Linked DNA regions of Homo sapiens: region 2 is reported to be linked to region 1. The links are microRNA targets in miRTarBase. Many come from high-throughput screens and were not tested one by one. Region 1 holds a microRNA gene; the other region holds the end of a gene's coding sequence.
Evidence for each region. The annotated mature microRNA hsa-miR-609 reads AGGGUGUUUCUCUCAUCUCU and lies in region 1 at 2,216-2,235, shown strand. An mRNA with a match to its seed (bases 2 to 7 or 8) in the 3' UTR can be bound and repressed. Matches are read on the target gene's strand: a 7mer-m8 pairs with bases 2 to 8, a 7mer-A1 pairs with bases 2 to 7 and ends in A, and an 8mer does both.

Region 2: the mRNA of SMC1A is a reported target of hsa-miR-609. Seed matches in the 3' UTR shown: 7mer-m8 at 5,782-5,788.

What each region holds. Positions count from the first base shown.
Region 1 is chr10:104,213,961-104,221,083 of GRCh38, reverse strand. MIR609 (microRNA 609) reads left to right here and starts at 2,201; the gene lies at 2,201-2,295. It overlaps CFAP43 (cilia and flagella associated protein 43), which reads left to right. Exons shown (of 38, transcript NM_025145.7): 4 at 6,658-6,825.
Region 2 is chrX:53,373,742-53,380,864 of GRCh38, forward strand. SMC1A (structural maintenance of chromosomes 1A) reads right to left here. Exons shown (of 25, transcript NM_006306.4): 24 at 6,879-6,989; 25 at 408-6,445. The coding sequence ends at 6,362. Among named protein-coding and RNA genes, the nearest start is that of MIR6857, 28 kb to the right of the region's middle.

The sequences.
Region 1 (7,123 bases):
GAATCACTTGAACCTGGGAAGCAGAGGTTGCAGTGAGCCAAGGTCATGCCACTGCACTCCAGCCTGGGTGACAGAGCGAGACTCCGTCTCAAACACACACACACACACACACACACACACACACACACACACACGCTCACTCATATAGAGTTAGAAAAAGTAGTGGTTACATAAAATTTCTAGGTTAGATATGTGAATGATTATCTTTCCAGAGGTCTCTAAAACCTTAGGACCTTAAACTTAACTGTTCTACCAGGGCATACAATCATAGCATTGAACATGTTCTAGAGTTTAACCTGTAAAAGCATGCCTGCCTTTATCACATCGAGGCTGTTAGTATGTATTATGACAACAAAGTTACATTCCCCAGGAGTGTCAGATATGGGGCAAAGCAAGGTACAAAGTCTGGTTTTTGTTCGAGGAGGCTTGCTGGAAAATGCTTCCCAGCATGATATGAGAAATCAAGCCAACACAATTTTTCTTTTTTCCAAGTTTCATTTTTTTTTTGTTCTTATAGCTACTTGCCTAAACTTATATAGTTGGTGAGTTGCTGAGTGGGCTTTAAACTCATTTGGTTTCTAAGCTCTTTTATAGCTTTCATTGATCTAAGGCACAATGGGAACCTGTAGTAGGGGCATCTCACATAGTCTGTTGGTGGAGGGGAATGGTCAGGGAAGGCTTCCTGGAAGGAGAGGTAATGTTTAAACAGATACTTCTATTAATTAGCTAGGCCTGCCATAGCAAAGTACCACAGACTGGGTGGCTTAAACAGCATGCGTATATTGCCTCCCAGTTCTGGAGACTAGAATTCTGAGATCAAGGTCTCAGCAGGGTTGGTTCCTACTGAGGGCTGTGAGAGAGAATCTGCCCCCGCGCCTCTCACCAACTTCTGCTCACTTGTTTGCTGGCAGTCCTTGGCTTACAGACACATCACCCAGATCTCTGCTTTTATTTTCACATGGCATTCTCCCTGTGTGTGTCTGTCTCCAAATGTTCCCTTTATATAAGAACACCAGACTTATTGGATTAGGGCCCATCCTAATGACTTCATTTTAACTTGATTACCCTCTGTAAAGATCATATTTCCAAATAAGGTCACATTCTGAGGTGCTGGGGGTTAGGATATTAACACGGGAATTTGGGGGAGGCACAGTTCAACCCATAGCAATACCTAAAGGATGAACAGGAATCAGCCTTGTGACGAGAAGAAAGAACATCCTAGGCAGAGGAATGGCATGTGCAAAGGCCATGAAGTAGAAAAAGCACAGCAGGTTTCAATGAAAAGGTCATGATAACGGGAACAAGAGATTTGCCATGAGAGAGGCAAGCTTGGAGGGACAGTCAGAGGTGAGCTTATGAGCAGCCCTATATGTAGGTGACCATGTGGTTTATCATCCAAATCAGGATGCTTTTGAGAGTGAAAGAGGGTGTTGCTGATGAATGCAGGGCACTTTAGCCTAAACTGGGTTTCTCCTAGGCATACTGGGAAGGATACTCACACTCCATATAAGCTAGGCTAATGGACAAATTCTTTATCCTAAAGGCAGTGGGGAGCTACTAAAGGGTTTTAAGCAGGGAAGTGACACAATTATATCTGCATTTAAGAAGATTCCTTTCAGCCAATTATTTCCAATGAAAGTATCTCCAATACTTTCGTACTGTGGAAGGTATATTGGAAGGAAACAAGGCATGAACATCAATTAGGAGGCTGTGGTGGTCCAGGTGAGAGATGACTGTGTCATGGACTAGGGTGGGAGTAGGGATGGAGGGAAGTGAAACTATTTGGGAGGTGTTTAGGAGGTAGCATCATGAGACTTGTAACTGACTAAATATTGGGTGTCGTGCTGAGGAAGAGGGATGGGTCTAGGGTTATATCCAGAGTTGCGTGTGACTTGGGCAACTTAGGGACACTCTGATGCTATTCAGAGAGATACTGAGGGCTTGGGGGCAGGGAATTTAGGGGAGGCAATGGGGGAAGATGAGCTGGGGGACAAACTGAACTGAGAGTGCTTGAGATGAACAAACGGAGATGTCTAGTTGGCAGCTGATATATCAGTTAGGACTTAGGTTCATTTGTGGTCACAGAAACCCAAATCACCAACATGTGTTTCCTTCTGTCACATGCAGTTGTCTGGGCACGAGCAGCTGTGGTTGGTGTGGTGGCTCCTCGGGGTCAGCGTCCAGTCTCCCGCTGTCATGCTGCTCGGCTGTTCCTAGGGTGTTTCTCTCATCTCTGGTCTATAATGGGTTAAATAGTAGAGATGAGGGCAACACCCTAGGAACAGCAGAGGAACCCTAAACCACCGGTGTATTTTGGGAGCCAATGGGGAGGGAAAAGGATGAGGGGAAGGGCACAAACCTTCTGTTGAAATGCAGGGCTTGCATGAAAGAGATCATTGCCTGACCCAGGGACTACCTCAAGGGCTTTTGGTGAGGACAAGTGACAGTAGGAAGATGCAAGAGCCTTTAGTACCAAGGTTCTCAACACTGACTACATGCTGGAATGACTTGTGAAGCTTTTAAAAAATGTTAGTGCCCACTCTTCCCCTCTCCCCTCGGCCAGTTAAATCAGAACCTCAGAGAGCAATGTGCCTTGAGATGCCTTGAACCACTGCTTGAGAAGGAAGGACAAACACATTATTACCTTGGAAGAATTGCATAAGGCTTATGACTTGAAAAAAAATTCTTTTTGGAAACACAAGCATTTCTTTCCTTTTTTTTTTTTTTTTTTTTTTTGAGACACAGTCTCACTCTGTCACCCAAGCTGGAGTGCAGTGGTGCGATCTCGGCTCACTGCAACCTCTGCCTCCCGGGTTCACGCCATTCTCCTGCCTCAGCCTCCCGAGTAGCTGGGACTACAGGCACCCGCCACCACGCCCAGCTAATTTTTTGTATTTTTAGTAGAGACGGGGTTTCACCGTGTTAGCCAGGATGGTCTCAATCTCCTGACCTCATGAGCCGCCCGCCTCAGCCTCCCAAAGTGCTGGGATTACAGGCGTGAGCCACTGCGCCCGGCCTTGGAAACACAAGCATTTCTTTAAGAATGACCAGGTGTTGCCATATGTATTTACGGCGCAAGCAAGTGTTGTCTAAGCAGTTTCTCTGTTTGCTTGTCATAGCAACATTTAGAAACTCGAACATGCTTTCATTTATGTAAATAGTTTATGAAGCTTTGACAACAAATGTAAACAGACCTGAAATTATAAATCTGCTAAATTTGTATTAAGGGTATTAATTATTGAGAGAAAGTCCCCTTCCTCCACACTCAACTCCTATGGCAATTATGAACTCCATTTTACCCAGAACACTTAAGTGCCTCAGCATCTGTATGATACAGTGGAGCAGGTGCTGGCATAGGTACCAGCTGACCTGATGTATCACTAGCTCTGCAGGATGATTGCCACATACATGGAACACCTGGGAGTGCTGGAAATGTACCGGGATCGAAGCTACAAAGTGTGTTTTCATTCGCAGTGGAGGCCATGTCAAGCAACGGAAGGTCCAGCCCTCTTGCGGGTGTGGTGAGAGGCTCTACTAGCAAAGACATGGGTGCCGGAGTGGGTCCTATGTAGCATGCGAGTGCTGTAGAGAAAATTCAGTGATGTACATGGCTCTGATCCTGGACACAAAATCTATACTGGAGAGGAAATGACTGCTGAAATAAGGAAATTGTATGAATATTTAAAATGCCTGGAACACTAAAGTAATGATATTTCAAAAAGAAAGAAAAAGAAAGAAAGAAAGAAAAGAAAAGAAAAAGAAAGAAAGAAAAAAATGCAAGGCTTGGAAGGTGCACACATGACTGCCACTAACATTCATTGACTGGCTCGGCCATAAGCCACAGCCAGCTTCAAGGGTGGCTAGGTAATATTAGGTCCTCATTGTGAGTGGCCATATGTGCCTGGCTAATATTCAGGGGGTTCTGTTACTCAGAGGGAGAAATGGAGAATAAATGCTGAGGGACACATGCCCTTGCCACAGATATCCAGGACTGGTGCTCAGGAGAGAGGGCTGGAGATAAACATTTGGGAATAATTAAGTCAATGGATAGCCAAAGTGTGAAATGTAAGTAAGAACACCTCAAGAAGAGCCTAGGGTGGAACCTTGAGGAATATCAATGGAAGGGACCCACCTAGGAGACTCATAGGAGTAGCTATGAAAGGAGGAAGGACACTAGGCAGGGAGGGTTCCAGAATGTGCCTCAGCCTGGTTCCTTGGAAAGCAGAGGCTGAGGCAAGAGCTCATGCATCCCATCTTTAGCAGGGTGTGTGATCCCAGGGCAGGAGAGCCAGTATGAGGGCGTATTACCTTGCTGGCCACCACTTGGTACCGAGTGCAACTGGTTACTCTATCTCGAAGGTGGTCTTCTGAGAGGTTCTATGAACTGCTATGAATCAGGACAGTCCTCAGGCAGTGACAGACTGTGGGTGGGGAAGGGGAGAGGAGGAGATGAGAATTTATCCACCAACTCCTGTATCCCATCGATTGAAGCTTCACTGCACAGGGTGGTAATTCCTTCACACTTTCAGGTTTGTCGTGATTGTCCCCAGGAGCCCCAGTGAAGCCCCAGTGAAGCCACTGGGCGTGTGAAGTGGGTGTGAGGCGAGGCACAGGTGGGGTGTGCCTACATGAAGTTAGTCAAAGTGCACACACAGTTGGACAGCCACTGAGTCAGCGAGGCAGAAGACGGGGTCAAGGGCCCAGACACAATAGAGAGGATCTGTGGTGTCCCATAAGAGGTGTGTGACAGAGAGTCTAAGAGTGATTCCAGAAGGTGGTTGTGGTGAACAGTGCCCAGTTCTGCAGAGGTAAAGTTAGGCAATGACTGAGAAGTGCCTTTTGGATTTAGGATGAAGGCAGGTATCTGTGGATATAGCTATGTCAATGGAATGGTGGTGACAGGATGCAGGTATCCTGGGATGAGGAAAGTGTAGCTGAGGAAGCCATGGCGGTGACTTTAGAACAACTTGCTCAAAAAGTTTGACTCTGAGGAGAGGGGAGAGACATAGAAAGGTAAGACTGAGGGAAGGCTTCTTTTGAGGATGGTATGGATGAGCACTTGTGTGTTGGCAGGAAGAAGTCAGGCTAGAGGGAGAGTTGGAAGATGCAGTTATCCTGAGTAAACCAATGTCCCTAAGAAGGCAAGACTGTGGGACCCAGAGCACAGGTGGTGGAATTGGCCTTAGGTAGGAGGAAGGACACACCTTCCATTGTAAGGGGAGAGGAGGCGGAGAGAACCATGCAGACCCAAATGGGTAGTTATACTTGAGAGCAAGAATTCTCAGCTGATGGCCTCTATTTTATTCATGGGAATCAAAGCCATTTACTGAGATTGAGAAGGGAGTAGAGGGGCTAGAGGTTTCGGGAGAGGGGAGAATATTTTAAATGCCCATTTTAGAGAATGAGAGAGAGAGAACTGGCCAGAGAAACATAGCAGGATTGGAGATCCTATTGAGGGTCTGGTGGGGGGTGGCAACCACAAGTTTATGGTGTCACTGCCATGCACAGTCCTGTAGTCTTTGTTCCCATGTCTCTAGCAGCCCAGGCTTTCAGTTGTCTCCATCCAGGGATGACGGTCTTTGCCAGGTACCTGATGCAAAAAGTCAAAGGATCAAGGGAACCAGAGATTCCAGCAAGAGTGTGGTTGATGTGTTGGGCAGGGCATTTGTGATAGGGAATGAAGGATGAGGGCAGGAGGGAGTGAAAGGCAAGCTAAGCTCAATCAATATTAGCTCCAGTTTCCTAATCACAACTCTGAATGGAGTTCTGGCCCCTCATTTGAGGGCATAGCTCACATTTAATTTTTTTCTTTTCCTTCATCTAGCAAGGGACTTTGTTCATGGTAGGAGTTCAGGATATTCTCTTAAATGGGTAAATGAATAAATCCATTTTAAAATACACCACTTTATTTATTTATTTATTTATTTATTTATTTATTTATTTATTTTTGAGATGGAGTCTTGCTCTGTTGCCCAGGCTGGAGTGCAGTGGCACAATCTTGGCTCACTGCAACCTCCGCCTCCCAGGTTCAAGCGATGCTCCTGCCTCAGCCTCCCAAGTAGCTGGGATTACAGGCGTGTGCCACCATACCCAGCTAATTTTTGTATTTTTAGTAGAGACAGGTTTCACCATATTGGCCAGGCTGGTCTTGAACTCCTGACCTCGTGATCCACCCGCTTTGGCCTCCCAAAGTGCTGGGATTACAGGCGTGAGCCACCGCGCCTGGCACCACTTTAATTTTAAAAACTCAATAAATGATCAATTGGCATCGATGAGAACAGTACCCCCAGATCCATATGGAGTACTCACATGTAGTACTTACAGATTCAGGCACTTACACTTGTTTTGTAGCAAATGTGATGATATATTTCATTTTCTAGGTTTGGCTGAGTTAAATTGCAAAATTATTAAAGAAGATAAAATAGCCTTGGTATAGCATATGACAGTATAGTGTTTTTAAAACATAGTTTTTTTGCTTTCTTAGGATACAATACAATGATAAGCATAATTATTTATAAATTTGACATTAAGGTCATTGATTATATAAATTGTATCATAAATTATATCCCAATTTATGTAAATTAAAAAATAGATAAATGTTCTAAATACATGAAATTCAAATGAACTTTTTTTCATCAAATGCTATTTTTCTCTAAGGAACTGGGAATCGAGTATCATTTTGTGTAAGAAATCACAGCCTGGAATGGATGTGAACCAAATGTCTTTTAACCCCATGAACTGGCGCCAGCTGTGCTTATCAAGTCCAAGTACAGTGAGCGTGTGGACCATTGAAAGAAGTAACCAGGAGCATTGTTTCAGAGCAAGGTAGGAGCCTTTGTTACAACAGTAGCAACATGGTGGTCTTTGTTTGCATTCGTGTAATGTGATTGGGTCAATTTGATGAATTAAGTGGCTTTATACATACATATATATGCATACACACACATACACACACATACGTTCAGCTTATCTTGTTATAACATCTTTCTACATGCGTGATTACCTTGGAGTGGTTGTTTGCATTTCAAAAGAATTCTCTATGACTTGTTTCCCAATTAATTTATTTAAAATATTAAGTTCTCTGAGAGCTTTTTCCAACATGATCTAATTTTCTAAAATTTTA
Region 2 (7,123 bases), not on the chromosome of region 1:
GAGGGCATGTATATCTAATTCCCAGAACCTAGCACAGGGCCTGACACATGACAGGAATTTAACATATGCCTGCTGAACAAATGGATGGAAAAATGATGCATGAGTGAATACAGGAAAGAGCAAATGAACTGGTAAATGCTTACATTAATGCATTAATGAATAAGTGAGTGAAGTTGTGAGTTAGTGCATATATAAGGTAATAAATAAATGAGTGGATGAATGAATGATAAAAATAAGTAAGTGAATGAAAGGTGCCCATGCCAGTGAGGCAGGAAAGGATGAGTGAATTCCCACCTCTGTGTCTTGCTTCAACCCCACCAGGAAGACCTCTTGCCCTGCTTTCCTGTTATCTAAACTGCACACCAGTGTTAACCTTTTAGATTCCAAGGAACAAAGACACACACAGGTTAGTGATGGGGATTTATTAAAGCATTCACAGGGAAATAAGGAAGACAAGAACAGCTACACAGGCAGCCTCATGGAAGAACAGAAACTTGAAAATGGTTCATGATCCAAAGCAGCTCTAGAGCCTGGCTTATCTTGTCACCCCCTCAGCTGCAGGCATCTGTTGCTCCCTTCTCTAGTGCTTCCCAAATTGGTGACTCAACTCCTTTCTGGCTGTATTTATACTCCTCCTACTGCTACTGACTAACTTCTTTCTGCCCCCCTCGATGCTAGCCCATGGCTTTTTCTGCCTCATGGGTCCTGCAGCTTCATGGCTCCCGGCGCTTCAGTTCCTATTAATCCATGGCTTTTCTGCATTGTAGCTCCTGCTGCCTCTTCCATTCCTGTTGCCATGTTGCCACATGGTTCTGGCTACCTTGTGGTTCTTGCAGTCTCATCGCTTCTACTGTCTCATGATCTTATCTATTCAAGCCTTCTGCTGCTTTGTGGATCTCATAGTCAGTTTTGTCTCACGGTTTCTGTTCCTCGTGGCTCCTATTGCTTCATGGCTTCTAGCCCATTGTTGCCTTGCTGCTTCATGGCTTCTGCCACCCTGTGGCTCCGTGATCTCATTATACAAATGTCTCATGACCTCTGCTTACTTATGGTTTCTGCAGCTTTCTCTTTGCTTTTGCTGTTTAGTTTCTGGCCACCCCTCATCCACCACCACTAATGCCTCATTAAATTCTAATTAACGTTCACTTCTTCTGAATAGCTCACATTCTGCCTCCCTGAAAGATCTGGTTGTTTCATACATTTGCCATTTGATACATGCCACCCCTGTAAGGTGAAGTCCTTATGCCAGTCCAGCTAACAGGCCACTGGCCAGCCTAGAGATTGGTTGCCCTTGAACCAGACACTATCCACATCTAGCTATCTGTGGCCAGGATTGTGAGGTCACATGGTACAGAGCATGGCAACTTATGCTAAGGAAACCCCTTAGAAGGGACTGCAAGCATGGCAGGTTTGCTAAGGGTTTCCAGAAGGGGGCAGTGTAATTGGCAACCATCTTGTTTGACCTGTCCAATACATTGACCTTCAAGGTTCAACCTAAGTCCCACCTTCTCCCTGACCACCTCTGCCTGTCCTGATCTACAATGGGATAGATCAAGATCAAGACTCCAGAGATGACATAGAAAGGAAACCTAGCTTCCATTTCTGGCTCCAACACTTCCTAGCAGTCGGACCTTAGGAAGTTAATTCCCCTCTGAGGACCTCAGAAGGGGTTTGGGCAGTCTTCCCTTACAAGTCTGACATTCTGGGTATCTCACTATAAGTTATTGTATAAGAGATGTGACTCTTACCTGGGAAAGCCCTCAAAAACATCTCTTGAGGTAGGAAAGAGGGAGTCAGAGTCCTGGCTTGGAAGAGCCTTACTGCACACTGGAGGTGCTTAGCCAAGATTTATTGAACTGGATGAATGAATCAATGGCTTGTGGAGGGGTGGGGAGTGGGGGGGCAGTGAGAGACCACACAGCACACAGAATGTCTAACTAACTTGAGGAATTCCAGTTGCTGAGGAGGATGTAAGCAGATTGTTTCAGAGATGGATAAGGAAAGAGATGACTGGGACAGGGTAGGAATCATGGCTATTCATGGGTACTCATTCTATCCTCTCAGTCACCCTCCACATCCAATAATCAGTCATTAAGTTATCATCTTACCTTAACAGTTCACACCTTAACACCTCCAATCTATTCCTACTGGCCTTTGCCCTAGTGCAGGCCTCCTGGTCTTTTTCCAGTCTCCTAGCTAATCTTGTCATCTCCATTCGCTCTCTCACAAATGGATTCACTCATGCATTCATTCATTCAAAAACTTTACTGGGTGCCTGTTTTGTGTCAGGCACTGTGCTTTTTTGCAGGGGCTATACTGGTAAGCAAAATATCCCCAGGCCCACCCTTGTGGTGCCTAAAGCTTATTCAGAGACAAAATAAGCAAATATAGTAGTGTAAGAAGCTGATTAACAGGGAAGCTACAGGCACGGGCACATACAGCATGAACATCTAACCTAATCTGTTTTCCATGCTGGTTGGCTAGCCAGCCAGAAACAGGTTAAGTTCACATCTGATCTGGAGTCCCCCTATTAAAAACCATTTCATGGCTCCCTCACTGCCTTCAAGCTATGGTTTCCAAATCTGGCTGTACCCTAGTCATGTGGTAACCTTTATAAGCATTCAAGATTCCAAATCTTCACCCCAGACTTAATGAATGTTTTAGGGGCCGGGGCCCAGAATGCCGTACCTGTTTGTGGTATACAGCCAGTTTGGGAACCACACTGTCCTACAAAACAAATCTGAATTCTGTAGCCATGCATTTACGACCCTCTTCCAATCTGGTTCCTCTCTACCTTTTCTTGCTGCTTTCCCCCCACCCCAGGAATCTTCATGCTTCAGTATTTGTTTTGCTGTTTCTTGCCTTCATGTCTTCATGCATACTGTTTCCAATATCTGGAAATTCCTTCTACTTCCTCAACTGGCTAATTCCTACCCGTCCCTCAAGACTCAGTTCAGGTATCACCACCTAGACTACAGGATGCCTTCTCTGAATCTTCACATAAGCTAGATGTTTTTCCTGTGCTCCTGTCAGTGTTGATCACACTGTATGGTTAATGGCTGTTTTACAAATGGTTTCCCCAACTAAACAGTGAGCTCCTCAAAGGCAGGATAAAGATTTGACTCATCTTTGTGTTCCTGGTGCACAACACTGTGATTTCCAGAGGGAAGTGCCCAGTTAAACTTAAGATACTGTTGTGGAGTACTCTTCAACTCCCTACAGCAAGGCTACTGCGTCCACAGTATAAGGGAGTCAAACTAGTTCCTCCAACAAGCCCTAGGGAATCTACTCGGATCCAGCTTGCTCTTGGAAACACTGTGGTGCCCAGCCTCCCGTGAGCATAGCCTTGACAACGGTTGCCCTGTGATGCCAGGAGGTGGTGGGGCACGACAGGAGAGAGCAGGGGGCAAGCACTAAATAGATCCGAGTGGAAGTCTAGGCTCTGCCACTAAACCAGTGGAATCTTGGACAAGTCACCTCACCTCCTGGATCCTCAGGACTTAAGTCCCCAAAGCTCCTTTGTAGCACATGTGTTCCTGTGTGCCAGGGCCTTAGCCTAAGGCATCTCATGTAATCCTTTTTATCCTGTGAGGTAGGGGTTAGTTATCTGGGTTATTATCCATGCTGGCTGAATCAGATTTCCAGAGGTGGGACCAGAGCAATTTATTTTTAAAGAGCTCCACATCCTTTGGATGTGGGGGTGCAAGCAGGGAACTGCTGCTTCTCATTATAAGCCCTTCTGTACTATTTTATTTTTTTACCTGTGTATATATTGCTTTACTTTTTAAAAAGGAAAAAGAAAAAGCTTTACAAACGATTCTGATGCGCAGCCAAGGTTGATAACCACCTGTACAGTGGAGAAAGCACTTGAATGACTTGGAAGACCTGGGTTCAAACCTTTTTGGGCCTCAGTTTCCTTATCTGTAAAGTGGGGAGAACAGCAAAGGTGACCTTTAAAGGGCTGTGAATGATCTAGATGCCAGCCAAATTGCTTCATATATATTTAATTTTCTCTTTGCTTCACTACTGCAAGGTAGGTGTTTATTATCTCCTTTTACAGATGTGGAAACTTAGGCTCAGAGGTGAAGTAACTTGCACAAGTTTCTACAGCTAGAATTTGAACCAGGTCTGACCCCCGAATTGTGCTCGTCCATAAAGGCCAGCATTTGCCAAATTATGGCACACAGTACCACCAGTGGTACGTGACTTCTTTGGTTGAAAACAGACAAATTTATTTTGTTTTGATAGTTATGTCTTTTAATATGTATTAGAAGAATACATAATTAGCACACATCAAACCTGTGATTTCACAGATATCACTACTTGGGATGAAAATGATATAGGATAACAATGTTAGACCTCAGATCAACCTCAAGAAAAATACTGAGTAAATAGTACAGGAGGGCAATTTGGAAGTATTATTAAAAACCAATATATAAATATCCTATGACTTTGCAATTCCACTTCTAGGAATCAACCCTAGGTAAACTTTCATACATATACTTTCACACAGGCATAGTGATGCTCCTGTGTAGTATTTTGTAATAGCAAAACCTAAAAACAGTCTTAATGTCCATCACAAAAGAAATGCGTAAGTAAAATGTGGTAATCATATGATGACAATCTATACAGCAATTACAGAAGATGGATTGAGCTACATTAAGTAACATGCACAGATCTCAAAAACATCGTTAAGCAAAGAAAACAAATTGCTAAACAATTCAATATATCATTTGCATTAAACACACAATATTTCCAATGAGTTCACATATGTACGTACAAGCATTAAAACAAAGTCTAAACGGAAGTACAACAAACAACAGCCACTAAGAAGGGAAGGATCAAGGAGTGGTTGGTAGCTGAATGAGACTATCTTTAACAATCTAACTTCTCAAAAGGAGAATGAATTCATGCATATTTGGGTAATTAGAATGGACTTAACTTTTAAAAAGCAATATACAGATTGGAATTAAAGTGTGATGGTGTATGTGAATGAGTAAAGGCTGAGCTCATCGCACCCGGCTTTGCTGCCTCTGCATGATCCTTATAGCTAATGAGGTTAGTTCCTAAAATGAACCTCACAGGTGTTAGGCTGGGATGTGGCCCAGGATACCTCTCCCCTATTTCCTCACAACCCAGATTGGGGCTCAGGCACCCGGTTACCAGACATGATTGAAGCTACAGGTTTCCTCAGGCCCTCCGCTTACCAGGTAGACCCCATCAGTGCCCTGAAACTTTCCCAGTCAGCAGGGCATTCAGCACCTTCCAGATTTGGAGGCTTCTTCTGTCCCTAATAGCTGGGATCAGAAGCTCTCAGGGGTCCAGGCATGAGGGTTATATTCTGAGGGGTCGGCACCTAGTGGGCTCCACGAAGGGATAAGGCCTCCAGTGAGGAGCTTGACATCATTAAATCCTATGAGGTAGGTAATATTGTTAGCCCCATTTTACAGATGAGGAAACTGAGGCACAGAAGGTCAAATGACTTGCCCAAGGTCAAACAACTAGTAAGTGATAAAAAGTGGGACCAGAACCCATAACTGTCTGTCCCCAGAGCTCATGCTCCACTCCTAGTGCCTGACCAAATCCTACCAATTTGTCAAGGTCTAGCTTAAATGTGACCTCCAGGAAGCCTAGAGGGGATCACCCACTTCTCAAATTCAAAGTACATATGACATTCAGCTAACTATAGTCATTCATGAACCCACTGTATCTCCTTACTAGGAGGGTAGAGATCATGTCTGATTCAACTCTGTATTCCAAGCACAGAGCCTGACAAATAGAGGGTGTTCGGTATGTGTCTGATGAATACATAAATGAATGAATACACAAATGAGTGAATGAAGGCAGTTTCAGGTAACTGCCTAAGACTCCTATGAGGTCCTGAGTACCTTTGCCCAGCTCAGGGGTGCTGTCATCCTAAGCTCTCTTGGAATCAAATTCAGCCTAGGCTCCTTCTAAAACAGGTCTCCAATATCCTTTATTATTTTGCAAACATACTCACATGCACACATGCGGATACATACATACACACATACATACCCACACACACAGTGGGCAAGAGGCCCAAGGGGCCCACGATTATGGGTGATGAGGGGGAGGAAGGGGGTGTGTGTGATGAACAGATGGCCCTGTTCAGCTCAGCACCTCCTTTCAGAGGCCAGAATACTCCCTGTCGTTCAGGAATTTTTGCTCCAGACCTAACATCACCTCTGTTCCTCTTCATGCTTGATTAGCAGTGCCTAAATCCCATGACTACACCAAAAAGGGCCAGGAGGTAGGGGGAAGGTTGGGAGTCAAATATCCAGAGATTGGGAGAGGGACAGCTTAGGGATCCAGACAGGGCGGGAGGGCAAAAATACTGCTACTGCTCATTGGGGTTGGGGTTGGCATCTGGGTACTTGGTGAGGTCGAAGGTCAGGACTTTGCTGATCACACAGTCCCCTTGCTGAAGGAGGAGGGAGAAAAAGAAAAATAAAATTGTAAGGAGAGAATTAAGAGGGGTCTAGTGCCCCAGGACCAGGGGCCTCAAACCCTCCTCCCTACATACCTGCCCAAAGCCCAGTCAATGGTTCTCTCTGGGTGTGAGAGGATATGCTCAGTCCCATGTGCCTTCGCTCCTTGCCTACTTCTGTACTCTCCTCCTTTCTCCACTGTCTGGCTGCCTCTGCCTGCCTTTCCACCTGTCCCCAAATGCAATGGCCCTGCCTGGCTGGGCTGGCTAAGCCTCCAGAGGCAGGGCTCCAACAAGCCCAAATGGCCATTCAGGACCTGATTCCCTATGCTCCCCCACCTCCTTTCCCCTCCACTGCAGCCTTCCTTTCCTGCCCTGGGAAATCAGGCAGGGAGTAGGACTGGCTCCTGAGCCAGGCCCGCCCTACCTCAGGATAGACTCCAATGAGGCTCTCGGCCTTGGTGTAGAACTCCTCCTTGAGAGAGATGACGATGGCCTGGAAGTTGCAAGTCGACTGCTCCTTGATGTAATTTGCCACCTGTGGGAAAGGCCGCCAGGCACTTAGCAAGGCTCAAACCTTAACAGTCCCCAGTATTTTCCAGCCACAACCAGAAGGCAGAAGAGGTAGGGTAGGGAGAGGAAGGTGGGGAAAAGAGAGGTTGAGAGGAGACT